Linked DNA regions of Homo sapiens. The protein of the gene in region 1 interacts with the protein of each later gene in a pairwise test. Each region holds a gene or a part of one and is shown on either strand. Other genes may lie near its edges.

Region 1 (7,028 bases):
GGTTCAAGTGATTCTCCTACCTTAGCCTCTCGAGTAGCTGGGATTACAGGTGCCCACCACCACGCCCAGCTAATTTTTTGTTGTTGTTGTTTGTATTTTTAGTAGAGATAGGGTTTCACCATGTTGGCCAGACTGGTCTTGAACTCCTGACCTCAGGTGATCCGCCCACCTTGGCCTCCCAAAGTGCTGGGATTACATGTGTGAGCCACCGCGCCTGGCCATGTTCTCCATTAAGTTAGAATCTCCTGTGACATCTTTTTTTTTTTTTTTTTTGTTTGAGGGAAGGTCTTGCTCTGTCGCCCAGGCTGGAATGTAGTGGTGCAGTCACTGCTCACTGTAACCTCGAACTCCTGGGCTCACGGGATCCTCCCGCCACAGCCTCGCTAGTAGCTGGGACTGCAGGCACACACCTGTAGTCCCAGCTATTTGGGAGGCTGAAGTGGGAGAATCGCTTGAACCCAGGAGGCAGAGGTTGCAGTGAGCCGAGATCAGGCCACTGCACTCCAGCCTGGGCAAGAGAACGAGACCCTGTTCCAAAAAGAAAAAAAAAGATAATACAGTGTTTCCATTGTTAATCAATGCACGGTCTAGAATCTTTGATGGAATTATGGACATTGCAAACACTTTCCAGAGATCTATACTCACCACGTTCAAAAAGCAGGCTTCTGTTCTAAGCAGGTGGGGGTAGGAAATCTCTCTTTCTTTTAATATAGTAAATGTTTGATCAGCGATCTTATATTTAATATTTGAGGTACTTGAATTATTATTATTTTTTAATCCTCTGAATGTATGTAAACAGTTAAATCTTAATGTAAAGCCCAATGTAACACTGTGAGAGTAAGTGGAGACTGAGCTGTGTAGCTCCGTCTCTTCTGTTGAAACTCTTCAGGATGGATTTAGTGCGTGTTAGGGCTCAGGGAGGACAGGTTGAGGGTTAAGCATCCCAAGCATATGTTTATTTCTGGCTGAGTATTTACAGGGCTTAAAGCCTATGCATTTTGTCTTTCCGCCTAGGACAACAAAAGTAAAACCAGCATGGGTTTTGGCTCTCACTGTTGTTTTTGCCCTCTGTAAGGTTATATAAAAAACACAGAGAAATTAAACTACGGGAAAGAACATCAATATAAGCTGACCGTCACTGCCTATGACTGTGGGAAGAAAAGAGCCACAGAAGATGTTTTGGTGAAGATCAGCATTAAGCCCACCTGCACCCCTGGGTGGCAAGGTGAGCTTCATTCTCTCCCCTGCGCTCACATCTGCTCTTAAAACTGATGTATGCGGCAGCAACCTAGAGTGTGTGTTTTCCTTCTCTCTTCCCCTGCTGACTTGTGGACCAACACAGGATGGAACAACAGGATTGAGTATGAGCCGGGCACCGGCGCGTTGGCCGTCTTTCCAAATATCCACCTGGAGACATGTGACGAGCCAGTCGCCTCAGTACAGGCCACAGTGGAGCTAGAAACCAGCCACATAGGGAAAGGCTGCGACCGAGACACCTACTCAGAGAAGTCCCTCCACCGGCTCTGTGGTAAGGAGACCAGGCGTTCTTGCATCCGGCTGGCTTTGGTGAAGGTGGGAGGGACCTTTACAACTGGAAATACTTGTGTGTGTTGTGTTCATAATTATAAACTGTGACAGAGAATCTGCATTTCTGAAGTGAACTTTGCTGCCTTGCTGGCTAGTTTTCATACTGGATGGGCTTCGGGGGTGGGGCAGGGGGTGGACATCAACTCCTAAACGTCTATTCAACATGTTGTGTATATGTGCATTTTAAGAACCACTGGTGGCCAGATGTGGTGGCTTATACCTGTAATTCCAGCACTTTAGGAGGCCGAGGTGGGAAGATCACTTGAGCCCAGGAGTTTGAGACCAGCCTGGGCAACACAGCGATACCCCATCTCTACAAAAAATTGAAAAATTAACTGGGGATGGTGGCATGGACCTGTAGTTCCAGTTACTTGGGAGGCTGAGCGGGAGGATCACCTGAGCCCGGGAGGTTGAGGCTGCAGTGAGCCGTGATGGCACCATTGCACTCCACCCTGGGCAATAGAGTGAGACCCTGTTTTAAAAAAAGAACCACTGATTTGAAGGAAGTATTTCTCCAGCATACTCTGAGAATCATCCAAAAAGGGCTTCTATAGGAGTACATGGAGTGAGTTTTACATGAAATGAGATGTTTACTTACGAATTGAAGACAAAGGCCAGGGCATGGGGGCTCATGCCTATAATCTTACCACTTTGGGAGGCCGAGGTGGGCAGATCACCTGAGGTCAGGAGTTCGAGACCAGCCTGACCAACATGGAGAAAACCCTGTCTCTACAAAAAAAACAAAAACTAGCCGGGCATGGCGGTGCACGCCTGTAGTCCCAACTACTTGGGGGGCTGAGGGAGGAGGATCGCTTGAGCCCAGGAGGTGGACGTTGCAGTGAGCCAAGATCACGCCGCTGCATTCCAGCCTGGATGACAGAGTGAGAACCTGTCTCAAAAAGAACTGAAGGAAAAATATAGGTAATACAATAGCTTTTGACAAACATGAAGTAGAAAATCAGAACTAAAGATAGCCACATCTAACTTAGAATCTCAATAGATTTTCTATATCACAATATTGTGTGGAGAAATTGAGAGACAGAATTACTGGGAAACCCACCAGAAGGCTAGGTCTCTCTTTACTGTCAGCTGCGGATATTTTTCTGGTTTATCTAAATGAAGAAGAGGTGAGGTATGGATGGCTGTCATGGAAGATGTTGAGGGAAGAACATTTAGTTGACTGGTGATAAAATCCCACTAAATGAAGCAGCGTCTTCATAAATTGGAAGGGTCTTTTGTGTTTCAAAAAGCTTTTGTGAAACAGCTTTTCAGGGAGCATTTTCTTAAACTGATGAGTCTTTTCACTAGCCTGATAACAACCATGAGATTTAGGTTACTGGTTTTCTTTTTTTTTTTTTTAGACAGAGTCTCACTCTGTCACCCAGGCTGGAGTGCAGTGGCGCCATCTCGGCTCACTGCAAGCTCCGCCTCCTGGGTTCACACCATTCTCCCGCCTCAGCCTCCCGAGTAGCTGGGACTACAGGCACCTGCCACCATGCCCGGCTAATTTTTTTGTATTTTTAGTAGAAACGGGGTTTCACCGTGTTAGCCAGGATGGTCTCGATCTCCTGACCTCGTGATCCGCCCACCTCGGCCTCCCAAAGTGCTGATTGCAGGCATGAGCCACCGCGCCCGGCCACTGGTTTATAATTGAAAATTATCCAGATCACTTGAGGTCAGGGGTCTAAGACCAGCCTGATCAACATGATGAAACCCCCGCTCTACTAAAAATAAAAAATTAGCCAGGCGTGGTGCGAGGTGCCTATACTCCCAGCTACTTGGGAGGCTGAGGCAGGAGAATTGCTTGAACCCAGGAGGCTGCAGTGAGCCAAGAGTGTGCCACTACTCTCCAGCCTAGGTGACAAAGCTAGACTTTGTCTTAGAAAAAAAACAATAAATAAGAAGAAAATTATCATGTGGTAAATAAACCAAAGTAGAAAACTAGACATTATGCTGCCACAGTCCAATGATGAGCATATGGGGGTGTTTGGCAACTCTGAATCCAAATATTCATAATTGTCACCTAAATATATTTAAGTAAGGAGGTCTGGCACATTTTCTGTTTTAAACCATGCATGTAAGTATAATATATAAAATTTATTCCGTCTCTCATTTCATGGTATTAAGTGAATTTTTTTTCAGCAGAATAAAGTTAGGAAGAATAGAAATAATTTGAGTGCTTACTATGCACCAGGTACTTTTTTTTTTTTTTTTTTTTTTTTTTTGAGACAGTCTCCCTCTGTCGCCCAGGCTGGAGTGCAGTGGCGCAATCTCACTCACTGCAACGTCTGCCTCCTGGGTTCAAGCGATTCTCCTGCCTCGGCCTCCCAAGTAGCTGGGATTACAGGCATGTGCCATGATGCCTGGCTACTTTTTGTATGTTTAGTAGAGATGGGATTTCACCATGTTGGCGAGGCTCGTCTCCAACTCCTGACCTCAAGTGATCCACCCACCTCGGCCTCCCAAAGTGCTGGGATTATATGCATGAGCCACTGCGCCTGGCCTTACTCCAGGTACTTCTATGTGTGTTTTAGCTTAATGTTCCCAACAAGTCTACGAAGTAGGTGGGTATTGACCTTGTTACAGAGGAATTAAACAATTGAGACTAAAGCAGGTTAAGTAGCTTGCCCAAGCCCACATATTCAGGAGCTGAGGTTCTAGTGTGTGTGTGTGGTTTTTTTTTTTCTTTTGAGACAGAGTCTCACTGTCGCCCAGGCTGGAATGCAATCGTGCTATCTTGGCTCACTGCAGCCTCCACTTCCTGTGTTTAAGTGATTCTCCCACCTCAGCCTCCCAAGTAGCTGAGATTACAGGCATCTGCCATCATGCCTGGCTCATTTTTGTATTTTTGTAGAGACAGAGTTTCACCATATTGGCCAGGCTGGTTTGAACTCTTGACCTCAGTTGATCTGCCTGCCTCAGCCTCTCAAAGTTCTGGGATTACAGGCGCAAGCCACCACGTCTAGCTTCAGGAGCTAAGATTTGGACCAAGGTCTTCTGTTACTCAAGAGGCCAGGCTGGTCCAGCCAAGGCCTGCTGCTCCGAGTAATAGCTTAGTCAAGAAGGAGCTTGCAAAATCTTTTCCTGTGGACAAAAAAAAATTTTTTTAATTTGAACATGGCAATACATAAGAATGGTTGGAAAACATTTTTTATGTTTTTTGACTTAGTAATTTCATTTCTAGGAATTTATTTTAAGGGAATAATCATGGAGACACATAAAGCTGTGCATGCAGGTGAGGTTTATAATAGGAAAAGGTTAGGGACAGCCTCTGTGCCCACCTGGGAGGCTGGTCAGTAGGTGATGCTGTATCTGTACAATGAAATGCTATTCAGGCCGAGCGCGGTGGCTCACACCTATAATCCCAGCACTTTGGGAGTCTGAGGCAGATGGATCGCTTGAGCCCAGTAGTTGGAGACTAGCTTGGACAACATGGCGAAACCCCGTCTCTACAAAAACACAAAAATTAGCCGGGCATGGTGGCACACACCTGTGGTCCCAGCTACTTGGGAGGCTGAGGTGGGAGGATTGCTTGAGCTCAGGAGGTCAAGGCTGCGGTAAACCAACGCTGCACCACTGCACTGCAGCCTGGGCGAGAGAGGAGACCCTGTCTCAAAAAAAAAAAAAAAAAAAAAACAACTATTCAGATAGTTTAAATTACATGATAGAAGAATATTGCTAGGAATATATATGTATTATGCACATACATAGCAGGACTCCACTTTTATTGTATTTGTTTATATATTTTTGAGACAGGGTCGCACTCGCCCAGGCTGGAGTATAGTGGCACAGTCACAGCTCACTGCAGCCTCAACCTCCTGGGCTCAAGTGATCCTCCCATCTCAGCCTCCCAAGTAGCTGGGACTACAGGGATGCACCACCACACCTGGCTAATTTTTGTGTTTTTTGTATTGACAGGGTTTTGCCATGTTGTCCAGGCTGGTCTCCAACTCCTGGGCTCAAGCAATCTGTGTGCCTTGGCCTCCCAAAGTGCTGGGATTACAGGTGTGAGCCACCAAGCCCTGCCAGGACTCCATTTTTCTAAGAAAACGCATCATTTTTGTGTATATTTACCAAAGGAGGACTGGGTGTTTATACTAAAATGGTATAATTTGAATCAGATTACAAGAAATGCTTCCTTTCCCTTCCTTTTTGTTTTTTTTTTTTTTTTTTGAGACGGAGTCTCGCTCTGTTGCCCAGGCTGGAGTGCAGGGGTGCGATCTCGGCTCACTGCAAGCTCCGCTTCCCGGGTTCACGCCTGGCCCTTTCCCTTCCTTAAACAAATCCATGGTTGTTATTTTTATTTTTGTAATTTAAAACCCTGATTTTTGAAGAGAAGTAAACTGAAAGGGCCAAGCGTGGTGGCTCACGCCTGTAATCCCAGCACTTTTGGAGGCCGAGTCAGGCGGATCACGAGGTCAGGAGTTCCAGGCCAGCCTGGCCAACATGGTGAAACTCCGGCTCTCCTGAAAATGCAAAAATTAGCCAGTTTTAATGGGGCGCGCCTGTAATCCCAGCTACTCGGGAGGCTGAGGCAGGAGAACAGCTTGAACCCGGGAGGTGGAGGTTGCAATGAACCGAGATCGCGCCACTGTACTCCAGCCTGGGGACAAAGCAAGACTCTGTCTCGAAAGAAAAAAAAAAAGTAAACTGGAGCCAGCAGATTGCCTAAGTGTAAGACAAGCACGTGCCTGGGGGCTTGAGGTGCGCGGGACCTCTGGCTCCTCACATGAGTTTCACCGAGCACTGTGGCTTCAGGTGCGGCCGCGGGCACTGCCGAGCTGCTGCCATCCCCGAGTGGATCCCTCAACTGGACCATGGGCCTGCCCACCGACAATGGCCACGACAGCGACCAGGTGTTTGAGTTCAACGGCACCCAGGCAGTGAGGATCCCGGATGGCGTCGTGTCGGTCAGCCCCAAAGAGCCGTTCACCATCTCGGTGTGGATGAGACATGGGCCATTCGGCAGGAAGAAGGAGACAATTCTTTGCAGTTCTGATAAAACAGGTAGGGTAATAGCTCTGCAAGCGATGCCAGGCCCCAGTGTCCAGTAGGGTGGGTGCCAGCGGCAGGCTCCCTCTCCTTTCCCAGGGTCCCCTGCCAGCCTGGTGCTCGTAGGCCATGTGCCATGCTGTGTGCCTGGGGCACTTGGTTCCCTAGAGCCACGGCCTGGGCATTTGGGTATTAGCTGTTGTTGCTCAGTGGGGTCCACGGTGATCACAGGCTCCGCCTCTCAGGAAAGCCCAAGTGTATTTGTTTCTAAGCCCTGCCTTGGCTTAGCCGAAGAGTTCATTTATGCAGATGAAATTGTGTCTTCAAAATCCATTCAAGAAACAGCTTTAATTTCTCCTTTGGATCTTTAGTTGGCAATTTACCCATAGAAACTGCCTTTGCAGATATGAATCGGCACCACTACTCCCTCTATGTCCACGGGTGCCGGC
Region 2 (6,007 bases), on another chromosome or scaffold:
TATATTGAAGTGAATTTCATTTATTATTTATTATTGAAAGTCAGTGTTAAGTTTTTCTGGGAAATTCATGTGGTTAAGTCTGCTCAGAAGATGGTGAGTGCTGAACACTATGGCTGGCCACAGGCACCCTGCCCTTGGGAGCCTGAGGCATTGGTGGATCATCCCATGCTGTGAATGGACAGGAGCTGGGGCTGCCCCTCCTCTACATTGCCCACTTCCCTCCCTCCCATGCATACCTTTCCTTTGCTTTCATTTGATGGCCATGTTTACCATTTTACTGAGTAGAATCAGGAATAAGGGACCTTCCACAGGTTGTCCTCTGCCTTCCCTGCCCTCCCAGCCACATCCAGCATCCTCCCTATATCCCCTTCCTGACGCCTCTTGTTGCTGGAAACGAACCATGCAGCTCGTAGTCAGTCAGCCCTTCCCTGGGCTGGGATCTCATCTCCCACCTACCCAAGGACATTCATTCAATGAGTATCTCTCTCGTGCTACCACCCCTCCCCATATTAGGTGGTGCCCATCAGCAGCACACAGACATGAAACATGCCTCCCTGTCTTGGTCCCACTTCCCTCTTTAGCCACCACTTCATGTTTCTGCCCTCTTAATGGTAAAACTCCTCAAAAACGCTTGTGATACTCACTTCTTCAGCCTTCTTTCCCATGGGGATGAAGGCCCAGGGTTGAACATGACCGTGAATCCCAGTCCTTGGTAGCATCCCATACTTGATCCTCCCCTCCTTGCTCCTAGGATGTCCGTGGTCCCCCTCCTGCCCTGCTGGTTCCTCCTCATCCCCCAGCTGCCCCCTGGATTCATTCTCTCAACCTCTCCTCTGCATCGTCTGTACCTACTCCTCAGAAATTTCATCCAGTTTCATGGATTTTTAAGTAACATCACTATTCTGACAGCTCCAAATTTGTATCTCAAACCTCTGAACTCCACACTTGAACATGCTACTGCTTCCTTGAAATCTTCATTAGACACCTATTGGATGTCTGGTAGCCACTGCAAAGTTAACATATCCCAAATCCAGTTCCCGGCTTTCTTCCAACCAACCCCTTCCTTTGGTGGTCATCTCTGTTGATGGCGGCTCCATCCTTCCAGCTGCCTAGATCAGGTGCCTTGGAATCATCCCCTCACATCAGCCCATTCACATATCCTATTGGCTCTATTGAAAATACATTCAGAATTGGACCACTTGTTATGACTTCCATGGCCACCACGTGGCTCAAGCCACTATCATCTTCCTTCTGGATTATTACAGTAGGCTGCAGTTTAGTCTTGGTAGACCTGGTGGGTGCCTTTCAAGTGAGTTAAGATGGAGGTCGTGTCACTTGCTTGCTTACAGCCTCTCAGTGGTTTCCCTCTTTCACCTGCAATCAAAGGCAAACTTTGCAGGGGTGGCCAGGGCCCTGAGTGATCTGCCCCCCATTTCCTCTCTGACCTCCGCTCCTTCCTTGAGCATGGTAGGCAGTTCACAGTTGGGCCTCTGAGTTTGCTGTTCCTTTTGCCTAGGACTGTCCAGCCCCTCCATTCTCCCCAGCATCCCCATGGCTGATCTTGTACTCACTTCAGATCTCTACTCAAATGTCTGCTTCTGTTAGGCCCTGCTTGCCCATCTCCGACCTTCTTGTTTCCATGGCTCTGCTTTGTCTTTCTCATCTTCAAACCATGTTTCTCTTGTTATGTGTTCCTTGTCTGTCTCTCCTCACTAAAGTATAAATTGCTTAGGGCAGGGCCTCTGTTTTGTTTCAGTGCAATATTCCTTGTACCTAGAATGATGCCTAGCATCTGGAGGAGGCTTAATGAATATGTTTTGGAAGGGTGAATGAATGTGTCCGATTACTAAAATCAGTCTCTATAATTTAAGTGGTTTGGGATGAGATTTTTTTTTCCTTTTTATTAGATAGAGTCTCGCTCTGTTGCCCAGGCTAGAGTGCAGTGGCACAATCTCGACTCACTGCAACCTCCACCTCCCAGGTTCAAGCAGTTCTCCTGCCCCAGCCTCCCAAGTAGCTGGGACTACAGGTACCCATCACCATGCCTGGCTGATTTTTGTATTTTTAGTAGAGACGCAGTTTCACCATGTTGGCCAGGCTGGTCTTGAACTCCTGACCTCAGGTGATCCACCTGCCTTGGCCTCCCAAAGTGCTGGGATTACAGGCATGAGCCACTGCACCTGGCCAAGATTGTTTTTCTTGAAAAGACCGGTATATGGAAGTAGACAGCTCTAGAGTATGTTAGGTGGCAGTGGGATATTATTTTGAGTTAATTTTAAGCTATAAGCAGCAATCCACTCATTTGGAAAATGTCAGAAGAATTAATTATAGATGCATAAAACCAAAGTAAATTAAATAAGATAAGCCAAACAAGACAATTACAAGTAATGTTAAGTAACACATCGAAGCAGTTGTTTTTGGATTAATACCACCTTTTTCATTAAATATAAATTGGAATTGGATTTATAAATTAAAGGGAAGTGGTTTCTCTAATTTTTTTTTTTTTTTTTTTGAGATGGAGTTTTGCTCTTGTTGCCCTGGCTGGAGTGCAATGGCGTGATCTGGCTCACTGCAACCTCCGCCTCCCGGGTTCAGGCAGTTCTCCTGCCTCAGCCTCCCAAGTAGCTGGGATTACAGGCACGTGTCACCATGCCTGGCTAATTTTTGTATTTTTAGTAGAGACGGGGTTTCACCATGTTGATCAGGCTGATCTTGAACTCCTGACCTCAGGTGATCTGCCCGCCTCGGCCTCCCAAAGTGTTGGGATTACAGGCATGAGCCACCGAGCCCAGCCTAGTTTTTTTTTTTAAATTAAGCTTTATCATAGGAAGTTGTTAAATTTTTAATAAGTACATTTCTGCTTCTCAGTTGATGTCATAACTTAGTTATATTCTTAGTAAAAAGCAAAGGCTTAAGGCTGGGTGTGGTGACTCATGCCTATAATCCCAGCACTTTGGGAGGCTGAGGTGTGCACATCACTTGAGTTCAGGAGTTGTAGACTAGCCTGACAATACAGCAAAATCCCGTTTCTACAAAAAAATACAAAAATTAGCTGGGTGGCATGCGCCTCTAGTCCCAGGTATTTGGGAGGCTGAGGTGAGATCATTTGAGCTTGGGAGGTCAAGGTTGCAGTGAGCCAAGATTGTAACACTGCACTCCGGCCTGGCCAACAGAGCGAGACCTTGTCAAAAAAAAATAATAATAAAATTGGCCAAGCACAGTGGCTCACTCCTGTAATCCCAGCACTTTGGGAGGCCGAGGTGGGTGGATCACCTGAGGTCAGGAGTTCAAGACCAGCTTGGGCAATATGGTGAAACCCCATCTCTACTAAAAGTACAAAAAATTAGCTGGGCACAGTGGCACTTGCCTATAATCCCAGCTACTCAGGAGGCTGACGCAGGAGAATCACTTGAACCTGGGAGGCAGAGGTTGCACTGACCCGAGATTATGCCACTGCACTCCAGCCTGGGCAACAGAGTGAGACTCTGTCTCAAAAAAAAAAAAAAAAAAATTATATAAAATTTTAAAAAAGCAAAGGCTTAAAAAGTTTTTAAGTATATATAGAAGATTAATGAACAATAGTTAACTTCCTAATGCTCAAATATTTTTGAATTTATTACATATTGTTTCAGGTTTGAAGATCAGCTTCAGCAATGGTTGTCTGAAGACTCAGGAGCATTTACGGATTTAACTTCCCTTCCCCTCTATCTTCCTCAGACTCTAGTGTCTCTTTCTCACACTATTGAACCTGTGATGAAAACATCTGTAACTACTAGCCCACAGGTGAGAAGAACGTATACATTTGGCATTTACATAAGAATTAAAGATTGAGAGAATGGCTGGGGAAAAAAGTAATATCACGATTTATCCTATGATGTTTTGATGACCGACAAATTATTAGCTCAAATTAGACCTTTTCTTAAACTTTATCCATATCATTGTTAAAGAGACCCAACTGATTTTGAGTTTCTGCCTACGAAATAAATGAAGAATAGAATTGAAATATTCTTAAGAACTGAATAAGACCTGTAACTGTGTGCTGATGTGTAATTAAGGGCATTAAGGTGATGACAGCAGCTTCTGTTGGAGCACATATTGTCTGAGCTTTGGCATTACCCAGACCTCTCTTCTGGGATTAATTTTTCCTGAGGAAAACTAATGAATGAGGAAGGTAAGCTCCCAGAAGTCAAGAGCCTCACCCAAGAGTGTTCAAGTAGTGAGTGGTCAGGTTGCTTTTCAAAGCCAGATCCAACTGGCTCCAAAGCCTAAGGTCTTTTTACCTTACCATTCTTCCTTCAGTGGTTAAAGATGCAAAAACAGAGTTTCAATCACAGATATGTGCCACTGAACAGGTAAAAACTGTGCTCCTGGACTGGCTTTAGGAAGTCCTTCAATAGAGGAGAAAAGCAAATTAAAATGATGTACTGTTTCCATTCATCAGTTTGGCAAATACTTTAAAAATATTCATACCCTTTGAATTACCAATTCTAACCTAAAGAATTCTGACCTACCAGATATTCCCCAAAAATTAATGTATAAAAATGTTTACTGTAGCATTATTGTATGAAAGTCGAAACAGAATAAATATCCGAAGATGGGAGTCTGATTAAACAATTATAACACATTCATGTGATAGAATAATTCACAGCCCTTGACGATGATATTTTCTAAAAATGACTGGCTGGGCGTGGTGGCTCATGCCTGTAATCCCAGCACTTTGGGAGGCTGATGAGGGAGGATCGCTTAAGTCCAGGAGCTTGAGTCCAGCCTGGGCAACATAAAGAGATCTCATCTCTACAGTACATAATTAGCCAGGCATGGTGCTACATGCCTGTTGTCCCAGCTACTCAGGAGGCTGAGCTGGTAGGATCACTTGAGCCCAGGAGTTTGAGGCTGCAGTAAGCTCCGATCATACCACTGCGTTCCAGCCTGGGTGAAAAATGACTGACACTGGAAATTGTTCATGATAGAATACAAAGGCAAACAGTCTATATACAGATACCAGCTGAATGTACGAGCTAAATGAGGCTGGAAGGATATACAAAGGATAATTTTTTTCCCTCTGTAAAAATAAATGACTACTCAGATGAGGTTTCTAACATGATCCAGATCTAGTACCTTCCCAGAGATAGGTCGTGGTTTATTGACATCCCAAAACTGTTCAGTTTCTTTTTTATTCAAATAGAGTGACATGATGAGGGAGCAACTGCAGCTGTCAGAGGCGACAGGAACGTGTCTAGGCGAACGACTAAAGCACCTGGAAAGGCTGATCCGGAGTTCAAGGGAAGAGGAAGTTGCCTCTGAGCTCCATCTCTCTGCGCTGCTAGACATGGTGGACATTTGAGCAGCCTGACCTGTGGGGAGGGGGTCTCTCCCGAAGAGTTTCTGTTTTTACTCAAAATAATGTTATTCTCAGATGCTTGATGCACTGTTGGAAATGTGATTAATTTAATCATGCAGATAAACCATTTAAATGTCAGTCTCCCAGTTTTTCATAATGAAAAGTTGTTTCCCCTGTGTGACCTCTTCAATATTCTCCTATATTCATGACCTCCTCAGATTGTCACCCACCAGCATATGCTCTGAGGCAGTTTAGAGCTTACATTTCCATGTATAAAAGGCGATTCATTCTCTCAGCAAACTTGCAGTCCTTGATGTGCCAGACATCAGTGATGCAGAGATAAAGTAAGACACAGGGCCTCTGCCTGCTAAGCCCACCCAGCTTACATCCAGGAGAGTCAGGTACTTATGTACATAATTCTCAGAGAATGTGCATGAGGCGTGGGCCTGAATTGGTAGCAAGGAAAAAACAGAGGATGGAACAGGGTCTGGTTGGGTAGAGGAGAAACAGAATTCCCGGAGAGGAGTGCAGGGGTGTAGCTGGAGACAGTGTACTTGAGAGGACATGATGAAAGCGTGGAGGTACCAGCTTGGTTGTGTGGCCAGGTGAGGGGAACAGGCCAGCAGGGTGAGGTCAGAGATTCTTGTCACCTTCTTCTGAGAGCTG
Region 3 (7,028 bases), on another chromosome or scaffold:
CGTTTTACACCTTGTAATCTTCATCTCGGCTCTCAAAGGTAGCTATTTTGGCTCTATTTGTGGTTCAAGTATCTTAAAGTATGGACTCCTTGTACTTATTAAGAGTTGCAGTATAAAACTCTCATCACTAATAACTTTCTTTTCTTTTTATTCTTTTGAGACAGAGTCTCGCTCTGTCACCTGGGCTGGAGTGCAGTGGCACTCAGTCATAGCTCACTTAACCTCGAACTCCTGGGTTCAAGGGATCCTCCTACCTCAGCCTCCCAAGTACATTCATGCACCACCACACCCTGCTAATTAAAAAAAAAAATTTTGTGTGTGGAGACAGGGTCTCACTATGTTTCACAGGCTGGTCTCAAACTCCTAGGCTCAAGTGATCCTCCTATGTCAGCCTCCCAAAGTGCTGGGATTACAGGTGTCAGCCACCAGACCTAGCCTAACTTCTTACAAGTTATTTTGTGCCTAGTATTTTGCTGGTCACTGCAACAAGGGAGAGGGTAATTATAGGAAACAACAATAACAAAATGACATATTTGAATATGCATGTGGGTACTGACTATTGTTTCTGCGTCACTGGATTCTATTTAAAACTTTCATAGGAAACAGAGCAAATGCAGCGTTACAATCAAAGACTTATTGAGGAATTGAAAAACAGACAGACTCAAGAAAGAGCAAGACTGCCCAAGATTCAGCGCAGTGAAGCCAAGACTCGAATGGCCATGTTTAAGAAGAGTTTGAGAATTAACTCAACAGCCACACCAGATCAGGACCGTGATAAAATTAAACAGGTAAATATGCAAGTTAGTCTCTTCTCTTTTAGGTTTAAAATTTTTGAATGACCATTAGAAGTTCTACAAAATTCCTTTCTTTCTAAACAATTAGAGCCACCTTAGGCTTGTTGATGTTCACTTTAATTCTGTGGGCTGGGACTATAGATACATGGCATATACCAATTAGTCTTCCCCAGGATGGTGGTCACAGAGAGCAAAGCCCTTCCTCCTATACCCCATACCAGCTCCTGAGCTAGACTGGTCCTAAGACCAGCCCTGGGAATGAGATGACTCGGACAACTTTTCAAGTCAAGATATATGGCCTCACTGTGATACTTCTGTAGTCATGGTCACACACACAAATTAACTCAGATCACTAAGCAGATAGGAGGATCAAGGTTTTAATCAGAAGTTCCTGCTCTTCTCTGAAGCTGTGATGTGGACTCCAGGTTTGAGTCTCAGCATATTATTACTTGTAGCTTCAGTTTATTGTGCCTTGTTTTGTTAAATTCCTTTATATCTTCAGAATATATAGAAATCACATGCTTCTGAACTATAGTTTATCTTTTTTTCTTATTTATAGTTTGCTGCACAAGAAGAAAAGAGGCAGAAAAATGAGAGAATGGCTCAGCATCAGAAACATGAGAATCAAATGCGAGATCTTCAGTTGCAGTGTGAAGCCAATGTCCGCGAACTGCATCAGCTGCAGGTCAGATACAGAAGCCTGACAGCAAAGCCCATAGGATGCGGCAGCACAAGTGGCTGCTTTTGAGAGAACAGTAGCTAGCCAAAGTCAACTGCATCATACACGAACATGCTGGGTTTGAGAGGTTCTGTTTTTTGTACAGATCCAAATGAAGATCAGTTTGGTATCATAGGCACTTGTGTAGATTATATATAACCATGATTAATGTAAACATAAAGCTAAATTGTAACCTACGAAATTGAGTCTTTCAAAAGCAGTATTGAGTATGGTTTTTAGTATATTTTGCAAGAAGATGTGGAGAGTTTCAAAATGATGTAGACAGTTTTGTTGTCATATTCTGAATTTTTTGTCAGATTCTAAATTTAAAATTTCTTTTCCATTTAGAGGGAAATAGTTTATTTTCTTCTAGGTTTTTGAAATAAGTGATAAGTTAAATATATGGGAATTTTTCTCCTAGGAAATTTAAAAGTTATTCGAGAGAGGGCTGATTTAGGACCTTACATAGAATGTACAGCCCATCTAAAATGTTTAAGATTTCAGAGTAGTGTATAAATGTGGGTATCTATATATTTGCTTAATTTACTATAGTAGAACAGATCCTAATAGATTGGCCTAATGGGCCAATAGATCTTTTACAGGAATAGATCTATTAGGCCAACCCTTTAGTACCAGATCCCACATTCTGTACTCACGGGTAAAATGTATGCAGGCTGCCTTCTGAAGTGTCAGTTTTATGAGCAAATCTTCTTAGAAAGGAAAAACAAAAGCTCAAGCTAGTTCTTTTTAAGTTCTTTTTATATGGTATGTAATAGTTCTAGCTTCTAAACTTGTAAAAATGAAGCTATGATTCATTTCCTAATTCATGGCCCTTGGTTTTTATAGAGGAAAACTTGAATCTCAGTAATAGCATGATATTTGATGAGTAATTTATTATTATGGAAGATAATTGTATTTGTGAAAAATTGCTTAGTTGATCTGAAATTTTTTTAAATCCCAACTTTATTTTCAGAATGAAAAATGCCACTTGTTGGTTGAGCATGAGACTCAGAAACTGAAGGAGTTAGATGAGGAACATAGCCAAGAATTAAAGGAGTGGAGAGAGAAATTGAGACCTAGGAAAAAGGTAATTTTAAAAGCTTTAATTAAAATGATATGTGTGTACTCGTCCGTCTACCCAGCTATTGGCTCTTTACCTACTGTGTCAGGTACAGTGTCAGGGGCAGGAAACATAGAGATGAAAAGACAAAGTTTTTGTCCCCAGAAGTTTTGGAATCTAGTGACAAGCAGTTAGGAATTGGTAGGGTCATTGCTCTGAAGGAGGTGAGTACAGGATACAAGGGAAAGGAACAGATTTTGTAAGCAGAGGAGGAGGAGAGCTTAAATCTGCCTGGGTAAGTCAGGGAGGGTCTTCAAGAGGAGATGCCTTGCAAGCCAAGTGAGTCTTGAAGGGTGAGTAAGAACTTGCTAAGCGGATGGGCTGATTGGAGTGGAATGGGATGATTTGAGTAGGGAGAAGAGAATGAGTGAAAAGGAAGCGTACAGAGAATTGTAGATCGTTCTCTGACATTGGAGTATGAGAGGGGGTGTGTGCCAGTGTGTAGTCATTAGGGAGGAAGAAAAGGAAGGAAGGAAGGAAGCGATGACAGCTGAGTCTGAACAGGTCAACTGGAGCCATATTAAAAGGCCCTGTTATTCTACGTAAACTTGAAATCTGGTAAAATAGGGATGGTGTCTTCTCTGTCTCACCCCTTTCCCTTGTTTGTGCTTGACACCCTATTCACCTGGTCTTACTGGCTAACCATTTCACCTGAGTTTTTGCTATCACTATATGATCTCTGACCCTTCGTTACTCAAACTTAAACCTTTGTTTTGGGGGGAGCTTCCTGCCTACTGTACATTTCCACCATTCCTTTCTTCCATCCATACAATCAGTCAAGGAAATATGTATTTAGCTATGTGCCAAAGGAAGTGAAATGACTAAATGAGTTCATAGTGTGGCTTTTTGTTTGTTTGTTTAGACAGAGTCTCACTCTGTCGCCCAGGCTGGAGTGCAATGGTGCGATCTCGGCTCACTGCAACCTCCGCCTCCTGGGTTCAAGCAATTCCTCTGCCTCAGCCCCCCAGGTAGCTGGGATTACAGGCATCCACCACCACACCTGGCTAATTTTTGTATTTTCAGTAGAGACGGGGCTTCGCCATGTTGGCCAGGCTGGTCTCAAACTCCAAACCTTAGGTGATCCACCCACTTGGGCCTCTCGAAGTGCTGGGATTATAGGCGTGAGCCACCATGCCCGGCCCATAGTGTGGCTTTTTAATTTAAATTTTCTTTATTGTTAAACTTTTTGAATAGGTAATGCATTCATGTAGTTTAGAATTCAAAAGGTACAGAATTGTAAACGGTGTAAAATCTCCTTTACCTACTTGCAGCCTAGCATCTGCTTCAAACACCCTAGTTGAACTAGTTGACAGTGGTCACAAGTGAGTTGCTAATAGTCAAATCCTATGGCCTTATCTAACTGTTCTCCTTAAAAGTCTTGTTTCTTAAAATTCTCCTCTCACCTGGCTTTTGTGACACAGCTCTGCTCATTCTCTGTGTTCTTTATCCCCTTTTGTCTCCTGAAATGTAGACATTTCTCAGTTTTGCCCCTGTAGTAAAGAACAGTCTTTACCTTGATGATTTTATTGCTAGTCATGGCTTCAACTGTTGCAGATAGACAACTCCAAAACTTAAATGGTAGCAGTTGTATAGAGCATGAATTGTAAAGTCATACAGGTGTGTGTTCAGATCTCAGTACTGACACTTACTGATTAATTTTCTCACTTACCATTTCTAGGCCTAGTTTTCCTAATTTGTAAAATGAGAGTGATACTACCTATTTGGTGTTGTTTATATAGCAGTTATCTAGTACCTGAGCTATAGTAATGGTTCAGTGAATGGTTGCTGTTGCTATTATTGTTTCTTGTTTTTATTATCAGTTTGGGCAGTAAGCGCCCATTTTCCATCTGGGTGTTATGCTCCTCCTCATTTCACCTAGGCCTTGTGACCTTTTTTGGTCACTGTATCTCAGTAGCACCTATACTGAACCCCAAACATTCTGTATCTGCTCTCCTTTCTTTGTTTTTCTTTGTAACAATTCATCACCACCAGACACATTTGTTTATTGTCCCCTCTTGCGAGTGAGAATATAAACTCCTTAAAAGCATGCCATGATCGCTTCATTTATTGATATGTACCCAGTTTCTAGAACAGTTCCTGGCACATTGTACAGATGACTACATACCTGTTCAGTGTTGACTAAAGAGTATAAACTCAGTAGAGAGAAAACCAAACTCAGCATCCTTTTCCTTCATCTCCATCTCACCTTTCCCCACTCACTGCAGGCCCACTCACTGCCAGATGTTCCTTCATCTCCATCTCACGTTTCCGCGCTCACTGCAGGCCACTCACCATCAGATGTTCTTTTCTGCATTCCTGTTCTCTTAACTGACATCTACGCTAGAAACCAGAATTATTTTTCATTTCTGTCACACCCTACATTCAATCAGGCGCCAATTAATTTGGACTCTTTTTCATAATGTGTCTCCTTTCTTTCTCACTGCTATCCTGGTGCTTGTTTAAATTATTCAGGAATTTCCTAATGGGCCTTCTAATTTCTAGTTCCCTTTCCTTTCTTCCCACTCGCCTGCCATCACCGGAGGATTTATCCTCAAGGACATCTCTTGACACTGTCATACTGATGTTGAGAAATCTTCAGTTCCATCAGAGTAAAATGTAAATTAATGCCTCAGTTTGACTGTGAAGCCTTCATAGTGCCACACCTGAGTCACAGTCACCCTTTCTAGCTTCCTCTCCCACTAGCCACTTTGTTCCCAGTCCAGGTTCCAGCCTTGGGTATAATGGCCACTCCTCATACCAGCTCCTCGGCTTCCTGCCTTTGTGCTGTGTTTCGGCTCTGTTTCTGGCATGCCTTCCCTATGCTCCCTATCAAATTCTTATCTTTCCTTCAGCACTAAGCTCATGTTTCACCTCTTTTGAGAACCCCTCCTATATCCTTCCTTCTTTTCCTGTGCTTTGTACCTCTACAGCACCACTTATCCCTGAATCACTTCTCCACAAAGTCATTGATACCTGTAACAAAATGCCATAAACTGGAGGCTGGGGAGTCTGAGACCAGGGTGCCAACACGGTCACGCTTTGATGAGGGCCCTCATTTGGGTTACAGACTGCCGACTTCTCACCGTGTCCTCACAGGGCGGAATAACAACTCTCTTTAGCCCCTCATGAAGGCACTCATCCCATTTGGAGGGCTCTACCTCATGACCTCATCCCTTCTCAGAGGTCCCACCTTCTATGCATAGTATCCGCACATTAGGGATTAGGTTTTTATATGGATTTGGGGGGCACAGACATTCACATCACAATGGTGCCTCTTACATTTCTCAAGCACTTATTTTTGCTCTGTATTATGGGGATAAAAATGATTCTGATTTAAGTTGTACCTTTAAACAGCTTATATTATAGTCTAGTGTGAAAGAAAATACAGGCGCATCGTAACTAAAATAACAAGTAGGCAGGGGTAAGTGCCATGTGGGAGAAACACATAATAGTTAATAATAGGTACCATATATTAGAGTGCATAGTATGTGTAAGTACATCATTATCACATTTATACTTCACATAGCAAATTATCCCTATTTTTACAGCAGAGGAATTGAGGAATTAAATGGTTCTCTAATATAGGGAAGTTAAGTAATGGACCCAAATTGTCCATTTATGTGGCTGAGCTGGACTTGCACATAGGGCTGTACAAAGCTTATGATCTTAAAAAATTGAGCAGGCGTGTCTTCTTGAGGATTATATACAAAGAAAGTGTTTTGGACAAGTAGTTTTATCTTGGCTGTCAGCATAAATTCTATATATAATACCAGCACATAGCAATTTCTTTTTCCCTTTCTTTTTAAGACACTGGAAGAAGAGTTTGCCAGGAAACTACAGGAACAGGAAGTATTCTTTAAAATGACTGGGGAGTCTGAATGCCTTAACCCATCAACACAGAGCCGGATTTCCAAATTTTATCCTATTCCCAGCTTGCATTCCACCGGATCATAACAAAGGGAAGCATTCTGTGCGTGGGTTTGGCTCTTTCAGTATGTCATTCTGTTCTCATCTTCTGCCACAGTCTCTCAGATAGCTCATGAAGACAATCACCTGCCTCACCTTCTAGGTGTTTTCCTTTTTTGTTTTTTTTGTTTTGTTTTGTTTTTAAGCAAAGATGAAGGGAAAACGAACTAAGACAGACGCTAGGCCATGTTGGCAAAGTAGCATCTTGGTGACTAAGGTGACTTTGTATATTCATCTTAAAAATTATGTTCTTTAGACACTGCTACCTGAAAACTGTTGGAGAAATAATGTTTAAAGTTATTTAAGAAAAACTGTTACATCACTAAGTATTAATAAATTCTTCTTACCTGACGTAACTTCTCAATGCCTAAATTCTGTAGTTGAAGCTCTGCTGCAGAGAGTTGGGATAATTTTCTTTTGGTGGATCAGC
Region 4 (7,463 bases), on another chromosome or scaffold:
TCAGTCTTTTTTTAATGGCAAGGGTAATGCAGACCGTCTTGTGCAAAATAAAGAACGGACGTTGTTGAGTTTTGCTTGGATTACTGTATGTTTCTGCTTTCATTCCATTTTAAATGTATGTTTCCTGTAAATATTTCACGAGGAGAAAGCGCCAATAGAAGAAACTGTTTTGAAATGAAAATTCTCTTCCTGGTTTAATATAGCCTGACAGATGGACACCTAACCGCTTTCGTTTGGGAAGTACTGCGCTGGGATTTCTGTTTCTTTCTCTTTTATTTTAAGAATGATAGAAGGTCCTCGTTGGTATAGTGATGAGAAAAAAAAAAGGAAGGATACAAGGGCGAAATGATTCATCCATGTATTCATAATTCTCATGTCTTTGTTAAAAGAAATTAAGTGGCTGGGTGCGGTGGCTCACGCCTGTAATCCCAACACTTTGGGAGCCCGAGGTGGGCGGATTGCATGAGGTCAGGAGTTCGAGACCAGCATGGCTAACATGGTGAAACCCCGTCTCTACTAAAATACAAAAATCAGCCAGGCATGGTGGTGCACACCTGTAGTCCCAGCTATTCAGGAGGTTGAAGCAGGAGAATCCCTTCAACCCAGGAGTCACTGGTTGCAGTGAGCTGAGATTGCACCACTGCACTCAAGCCTGGGTGACAGAGCCAGACTCCATCTCAAAAATAAATAAATAAATAAATAAATAAATAAATAAAGTCTCATCAAAGAATCTTATATCTTCCATATCTAGTTATATAAAAGAATGGATCTCAGGATTTAGGGCTGTTCCTTCTGCACATCAGATTAAGTATCCAGACCAACAGTATTTCACTGTTCTCTTATTTCATATGATATGTGGAGGAAAACCTGTAAAAAGTGAAGTAGGACAAGGACTGTTGGAAGGTATTTTTTTTTTGAGGTAGCGTCTTGCTCTGTTGCCCAGACTGGAGTGCAGTGGCATGACTTCGGCTCACTGCAACCTCTGTCTTCTGGGTTCAAGTGATCCTCCTGCCTCAGCTTCCCTAGTAGCTGGGATTACAGGCATGCGCCACCATGCCAGGCTAATTTTTGTATTTTTAGTAGAGATGGGGTTTCGCTATATTGGCCAGGCTGGTCTTGAACTCCTGACTTCAGGTAATCCACCTGCCTCAGCCTCCCAAAGTGCTGAGCCACCACTCCCGGCGCTAATTTTTGTATTTTTAGTAGAGATGGGGTTTCACCATTTTGGCTAGGCTGGTCTTATTTACTTATTTATTGATTCATTCTTTATTTTGAAATAGGATCTCACTTTGTCACCCAGGGTGGAGTGCAGTGGCACAATCATAGCTCACTTCTCACCCTCCCAGGCTCAAGCCATCCTCCCACCTCAACCTCCTGAGTAGCTGGGACTACAGGTGTGCACCACCACACTGGGCTGATTTTTGCATTTTTTGTTGAGACAGGGTTTTGCCATGTTGCCCTGAATGGTCTTGAACTCCTGGGCTTGGGCAATCTGCCTACCTCAATCTCCCAAAGTGCTGGGATTATAGGCGTGAGCAACCGCACCTGGCCCTGGTCATTTCCTTAATAGCATGTCTATGTGATCTTTTGAATCTCAAACTACTATGGTTGGAAGGGAATCATTTGTAATTTTCCAAAGTACAAATAGGTGTGGTATGATTCCCAAAGTCTTAGCGTCTATATCTGTAAACCATATGTTTTTGTTTTTTGTTTTTTAATTTTTAGTAGAGAATTGGTTTCACTATGTTCAGGCTGGTCTCAAACTCCTAACATCAAGTGATCTTCCTGCCTCAGCCTCCCAGAATGTTGGGATTGAGCTACCTTGCCTGGCCACATACATGATTTTCCTTTTTTTTTCTTTTTTTTTTTTTTTGAGACAGAGTCTCGCTCTGTCACCCAGGCTGGAGTGCAGTGGCCCAATCTCAGCTCACTGCAACCTCCGCCTCCCAGGTTCAAGCGATTGTCCTCCCTCAACCTCCCAAGTAGCTGGGACTACAGGTGTGCGCCACCACGCCCGGCTAATTGTTGTATTTTTAGGAGAGACGGGGTTTCACTGTATTGGTCAGGCTGGTCTCGAAATCCTGACCTCGTGATCTGCCCGCCTCGAACTCCCAAAAAGTGCTGGGATTACAGGCCTCCCAAAAAGTGCTGGGATTACAGGCCTCCCAAAAAGTGCTGGGATTACATTGCACCTGACCCACATACATTATTTTCTTTCTTCTTTTTTTTTTTGAGATGGAGTCTCGCTCTGTTGCCCAGGCTGGAATACAGTGGTGCAGTCTTGGCTCACTGCAACCTGTGCCTTCTGGGTTCAAGTGATTCTCCTGCCTCAGCCTCCTCAGTAGCTGAGATTACAGGTGCGCACCACCACGCCTGGCTAATTTTTTTGTATTTTTAGTAGAGACGGGGTTTCACTATGTTGGTCAGGCTGGTCTCGATCTCCTGACCTGTTGATCCACCCGGCTTGGCCTCCCAAAGTGCTGGGGTTACAGGTGTGAGCCACCGTGCCCGGCCCCATATGCATGATTTTCTAAATCTCAGTCTGTATCTGTAAAATGAGGAACTGCTTGTCTCATAGGTAAGAACATCACTTGTTAGCTATGTGATAATAGGCAAATTATCTGGACTTTTGGAGTCCATTTACTCATCTTTAAATTTTATTTATTTAGGGACAGAGTCTTGTTGTGTTACCCAGGCTGGATTCATACTCTTGGGCTCAAGTGATCATCCCTCCTCAGCCTCCTGAGTAGCTGGGACTACAGGCACACTTAGTCTAAAATTTAGTTATTGAGAAGATTAAATGTGATAATGTTAACAGCTGTTAAATACAATTTATAGGAGCCCATTGTTTTGCACTGAGCTTCAGCACAGTAGACCAAACCAAAACAGAGTTACTCAAGGTGAATTTCTACCCAACCACGCCTAAACGAAATTGTTTATCTGACCTTCTGAGAAATCATCAAATCCCCAAACTGGTCAGTTTTACCCCACATAAGGAAGTCCATTCTGCTTAAACCTTTACAAGAAAAGTAATTTTGAAATGACTAATCTGCTTTTTGTTCTCTGTTTCTACTTTTTAAAAAAAAGTTTAGACAGGGTCTCCCTCTCTGTCACTCATACTGGAGTGCACTGGCACGATCGTATCTCACTGCAACCTCCAACTGCTGGGCTCAGGTGATCCTCCCACCTCAGTTTCCTGAGTAGCTAGAACTACAGGTGTGCAGCCACAGCCACTATGCTTGGCTAATTTTTTTTTCTTTCTCTCTTTTAAATTAAAGTTAGTTTTATTCAAACTATTTTATTCAGAGCCCAGCTAATTTTTGTATTTTTAATAGGGTCGGGATTTTGCTATGTTGGCCAGGCTGGTCTTGAACTCCTGGCCTCAAGTGATCTGCCCCCTCCTCAGACTCCCAAAGGGCTGGAATTACAGGTGTGAGCCACCACGCCCGGCTGCCCAACTAATTTTTTAAAAAATATTTTTATTCTTTAGAGACAGGGGTCTCGCTATATTCCCCAGGCTGGTCTGGAACTCCTGGCCTCCAAGGATCCTTCCACCTCTGCCTCCCAAAGTGTTGGGATTACACGCATGAAACACTGCTTATGGCCTGTTTCCGCCTCTGTCTCCTGGGTAATGGGGACCACAGGTGCGCACCGCCACGCCAGGCTAAAGAAATAAAGTGATGTACTGTATGAAGAAGTGCCGTAAAGTGATATTAAATGTAAGGTATTGTCATTATTAACGTTATTATTATTATTCCTAATATGAGATAGACTAAAGGCCATAAATCAATTGGTATTAACGCTAGAATAAGAACCATAAATTGGCCGGGCGCGGTGGCTCACGTCTGTAATCCCAGCACTTTGGGAGGCCGAGGTGGGCAGATCACGAGGTCAGGAGATCAAGACCATCCTGGCTAACACGGTGAAACCGTGTCTCTACTAAAAATACAGAAAATTAGCCGGGCGTGGTGGCGGGCGCCTGTGGTCCCAGCTACTCGGGAGGCTGAGGCAGGAGAATGGCGTGAACCCGGGAGGCGGAGCTTGCAGTCAGCCCAGATCGCGCCACTGCACTCTAGCCTGGGCGACAGAGCGACTCCGCCTCAAAAAAAAAAAAAAAGAACCATAAATCAAACGAGTCTATAAAGGAGTTCCACAGGTATTCCAATGTTTGGCTACATTATTATCAGTGTATATTATTATTGTTACTGTATTTTTAGTGTACTAAGTGAAAAACCTGGACTTGGAGCAACTGCAAGTCCCATTATTTTGAATGCCCTCACAGTGGGGTTGGGGCGGAGGTGGGGGAGGAAATAAAAAAAACAAAACCAAAACAAACAAACAAACAAAAACCAAAAAACAAACCACGAGACCCGGATGTAGGCAAAAACTACATTTCCCAGAATACCTCACCCCCTCTCCACTATATATACAGTCCATCCGGGTTCTTTGAGATGCTGTTTGGCGACTCGTCGCCATTCCCGGAGCAGGTCGGCCTCGGCCCAGGGGCGAGTATCCGTTGCTGTGTCGGAGACACTAGTCCCCGACACCGAGACAGCCAGCCCTCTCCCCTGCCTCGCGGCGGGAGAGCGTGTCCGGCCGGCCGGCCGGCGGGGCTCGCGCAACCTCCCTCGCCTCCCCTTCCCCCGCAGCCTCCGCCCCGCCAGGCCCGGCCCGGACTCCCGAGCCCCGGCCTCCTCGTCCTCGGTCGCCGCTGCCGCCGGGCTTAACAGCCCCGTCCGCCGCTTCTCTTCCTAGTTTGAGAAGCCAAGGAAGGAAACAGGGAAAAATGTCGCCATGAAGGCCGAGAACCGCTGCCGCCGCCGACCCCCGCCGGCCCTGAACGCCATGAGCCTGGGTCCCCGCCGCGCCCGCTCCGCTCCGACTGCCGTCGCCGCCGAGGCCCCCGTTGATGCCGCTGAGCTCCCCCAACGCCGCCGCCACCGCCTCCGACATGGACAAGAACAGCGGCTCCAACAGCTCCTCCGCCTCTTCGGGCAGCAGCAAAGGGCAACAGCCGCCCCGCTCCGCCTCGGCGGGGCCAGCCGGCGAGTCTAAACCCAAGAGCGGTAAGGACGGGCCTGCGGCAGTGGGCGGGGGCGACTGCCCCTGCTGCTGGGGAGAGTCGTTGCTCTCATCGGCTGGGTTACTCGGGGACAGGCTCCACTTTCTTTTATAGCTCCTACCTGCCCTTTTCCATGGCTCTCATTTGCAGTTACATTAATGAGCGCTGTGCTGCGTGGTTTACGTGGATCATTTACATTAATACTCAAAACTGCTCGATTAAGCAGGTGCTGTTCTTATCGCCATTTTGCATATGATGAGAAAGGGTAAGGTCACCCAGCTAGTATTTGGCTCACAGCAGGCCTTAAGACTTGGTTTGTGTGACTCATCAGTCCACGCTCCTAAAACCACTAAGTTGTTCTACCCTTTAATGTTGAATTAACATTGGATAGTGTTCAAGTTTAGATGGGTGGGTGAGGGCCCAAGGACCTTTCAAACTCAGATCTCTTATTTAATAACCTGGTCCCAGATCCATTCCTCTGTCGAAGAGGAAGTCATCCTTCAGTGGCTATTCATTGTGGGGTTAAGAGCGCAGACTATGAATTCAGTCTTTTTGGGTCCCAGTTTGCCAGACCTTGAGTGAGTGCCCCGAGTTTACTTACTTGTAAAGGTAGGTGGAGGTAATATAATTAAATAAACTTAAAAAACTAATTAAAAACAAAACAAATGAACTAAGGTCTTAGGATATCTGGCGTCTATTTTGCGCCAAATACACATAATGTCTATTGTTGTGTGTTGGACTATAGGATTGTCCTTTAACAGGGAAGGTTTTATTTCTGTAATCAAGTCTGTCAATATTATGACCATGTTGATAATAGCTACCTTTAATTGAGGGCTTACCATGTGCCAAGTACTAGGTGAAGTTTTTACCTCTGTTTTCACTGTGCCAGTCACTGACTTGTCTACCAGGGTGAAATTGTTCATATTTAAAGAAGGAATAAACTGAGCAGGTAGGATGTTAGGAGTTGGCAGAGGCTAGAGTCCCGGTGTTCTTCATTTTATTTCGAAGTTTGTACTAATCTCTGCTCTCTTTTGTATTTCAGTCACATTAGCAGTAATAGGAAGGTGTTTTCAGCGACAGTGGGGATGTTGTGGCAGAGAGGGAAATATTTGAAGTCCCTAAATGTGGAGGTCCAGTTTAAAACTTGTCAAGATTAAAAAAACTGTTTAGAGTGAGACCGGGCGCGGTGGCTCATGCCTGTAATCCGAACACTTTGGGAGGCTGAGGTGGGAGGATAGCTTGAGCCCAGGAGTTTCACACCAGCTTGGGCAAGATAGTAAGACCCTCGTCTCCATAAGAAAAAAAAAAAATTAGCCGAGTGTGGTGGCACACACCTGTAACCCTACCTACTTGGAAGGGTAAGGTGGGAGGATCGCTTAAGCTCAAGGAAGTTGAGGCTGCGGTGAGCTATATCACGATACTGCATACCATCCAGCCTGGGTAACAGAGACCCCCATCTCTAAACAGTAAAAAGAAAACTAAGGCTGACTTAAAACAAACAAAAAAAACAGAAAATTGTAAGGTCTGCTAACTCGCTCAGAGTTCACCTGCTGGATATGGCAAACTTGTTTACCTGGTGTGAGACCATTGGAGTATGGGTTCTCGGGCCGTGTCAGGAAATGGCATGTATGCAGACTGATTTTGCAGTTCTGCACATGCGTAGCTTTGCCATAGATCCCTCAAAAGATAGAAGGTAACCAGTCCTTTTGGTCAGTGTTGGAACTGGTTTAGAGTGGTCTGTTCAAAGCAATTGATAAGTAAGTTTATTTTTGTACTCTATTCCCAGATGTATGTTAAGGATTTGGTTCTCCAACTGTGAATTCTCAACTAATTTTTCTGGGGCTCCTCTTTAAGCCACTAACATACATTCATTAGTCAGTTGCAATAAATGCCTTAAGTTTATTTCTTAGCAGTAGGTGAAAGCTTGTGACAACTTAAAATAAAACAAACAAACAGGTATTTAAGGAATTTTACTGCTATGTCCTTCACTTTGAATATGTTGGTTAGTGGAATTAACTCTGATTACCCAACAAGATGATACAGAATTCTATAGTAGTTTGACCAAAGCAAGTATTTGTCATTGTTAACATTTCAAATGGGCTGGGTGGCTATAATCCCAGCACTTTGGGAGGCTGAGGCAGGCCGATTACTTGAGCCCAGGAGTTCGAGACCCTGTCCTACAAAAAAATAAATGAGCCGGGCGTGGTGGCACGCACCTGTAGTCCCAGCTGTGAAGAGGCTGAGGCAGGGGAGGAGGAAGAGCACTTAAACCCAGAAGTTCGAGGTTGCAGTGAGCCACGATCACTCCACTGCACTCTAGCCTGGGTGGCAGAGTGAGACCCCGTCTCAAAACAAGAAAACTTCTGTAAAAACTCATGTAGGCCGGGTGCGGTGGCTCACG

What was found.
Region 2: the proteins of CLSTN1 (region 1) and MCM3AP interact in a two-hybrid assay, tested with the Homo sapiens proteins (one study listed by BioGRID and IntAct).
Region 3: the proteins of CLSTN1 (region 1) and SLK interact in a two-hybrid assay, tested with the Homo sapiens proteins (one study listed by BioGRID and IntAct).
Region 4: the proteins of CLSTN1 (region 1) and RNF10 interact in binary tests that used the Homo sapiens proteins (3 or more experiments, as listed by UniProt).

What each region holds. Positions count from the first base shown.
Region 1 is NC_000001.11:9,743,961-9,750,988, reverse strand, and holds part of CLSTN1 (calsyntenin-1 isoform 1 precursor), read left to right. Parts: intron 1-1,075; coding exon 1,076-1,225; intron 1,226-1,342; coding exon 1,343-1,528; intron 1,529-6,345; coding exon 6,346-6,594; intron 6,595-6,983; coding exon 6,984-7,028. UniProt on the Homo sapiens protein: Postsynaptic adhesion molecule that binds to presynaptic neurexins to mediate both excitatory and inhibitory synapse formation.
Region 2 is NC_000021.9:46,234,605-46,240,611, reverse strand, and holds the end of MCM3AP (germinal-center associated nuclear protein), read left to right. Parts: intron 1-3,632; coding exon 3,633-3,783; intron 3,784-4,285; exon of another isoform or gene 4,286-4,388; intron 4,389-5,185; coding exon 5,186-5,344; 3' UTR 5,345-5,479; downstream 5,480-6,007.
Region 3 is NC_000010.11:104,019,135-104,026,162, forward strand, and holds part of SLK (STE20-like serine/threonine-protein kinase), read left to right. Parts: intron 1-599; coding exon 600-788; intron 789-1,353; coding exon 1,354-1,479; intron 1,480-2,485; coding exon 2,486-2,599; intron 2,600-6,439; coding exon 6,440-6,586; 3' UTR 6,587-7,028. UniProt on the Homo sapiens protein: Mediates apoptosis and actin stress fiber dissolution.
Region 4 is NC_000012.12:120,529,903-120,537,365, forward strand, and holds the start of RNF10 (E3 ubiquitin-protein ligase RNF10), read left to right. Parts: upstream 1-4,453; 5' UTR 4,454-4,794; coding exon of another isoform or gene 4,795-4,909; coding exon 4,910-5,066; intron 5,067-7,463. Other genes in the region: uncharacterized LOC128071547, read left to right, coding at 4,795-5,055. UniProt on the Homo sapiens protein: E3 ubiquitin-protein ligase that catalyzes monoubiquitination of 40S ribosomal proteins RPS2/us5 and RPS3/us3 in response to ribosome stalling.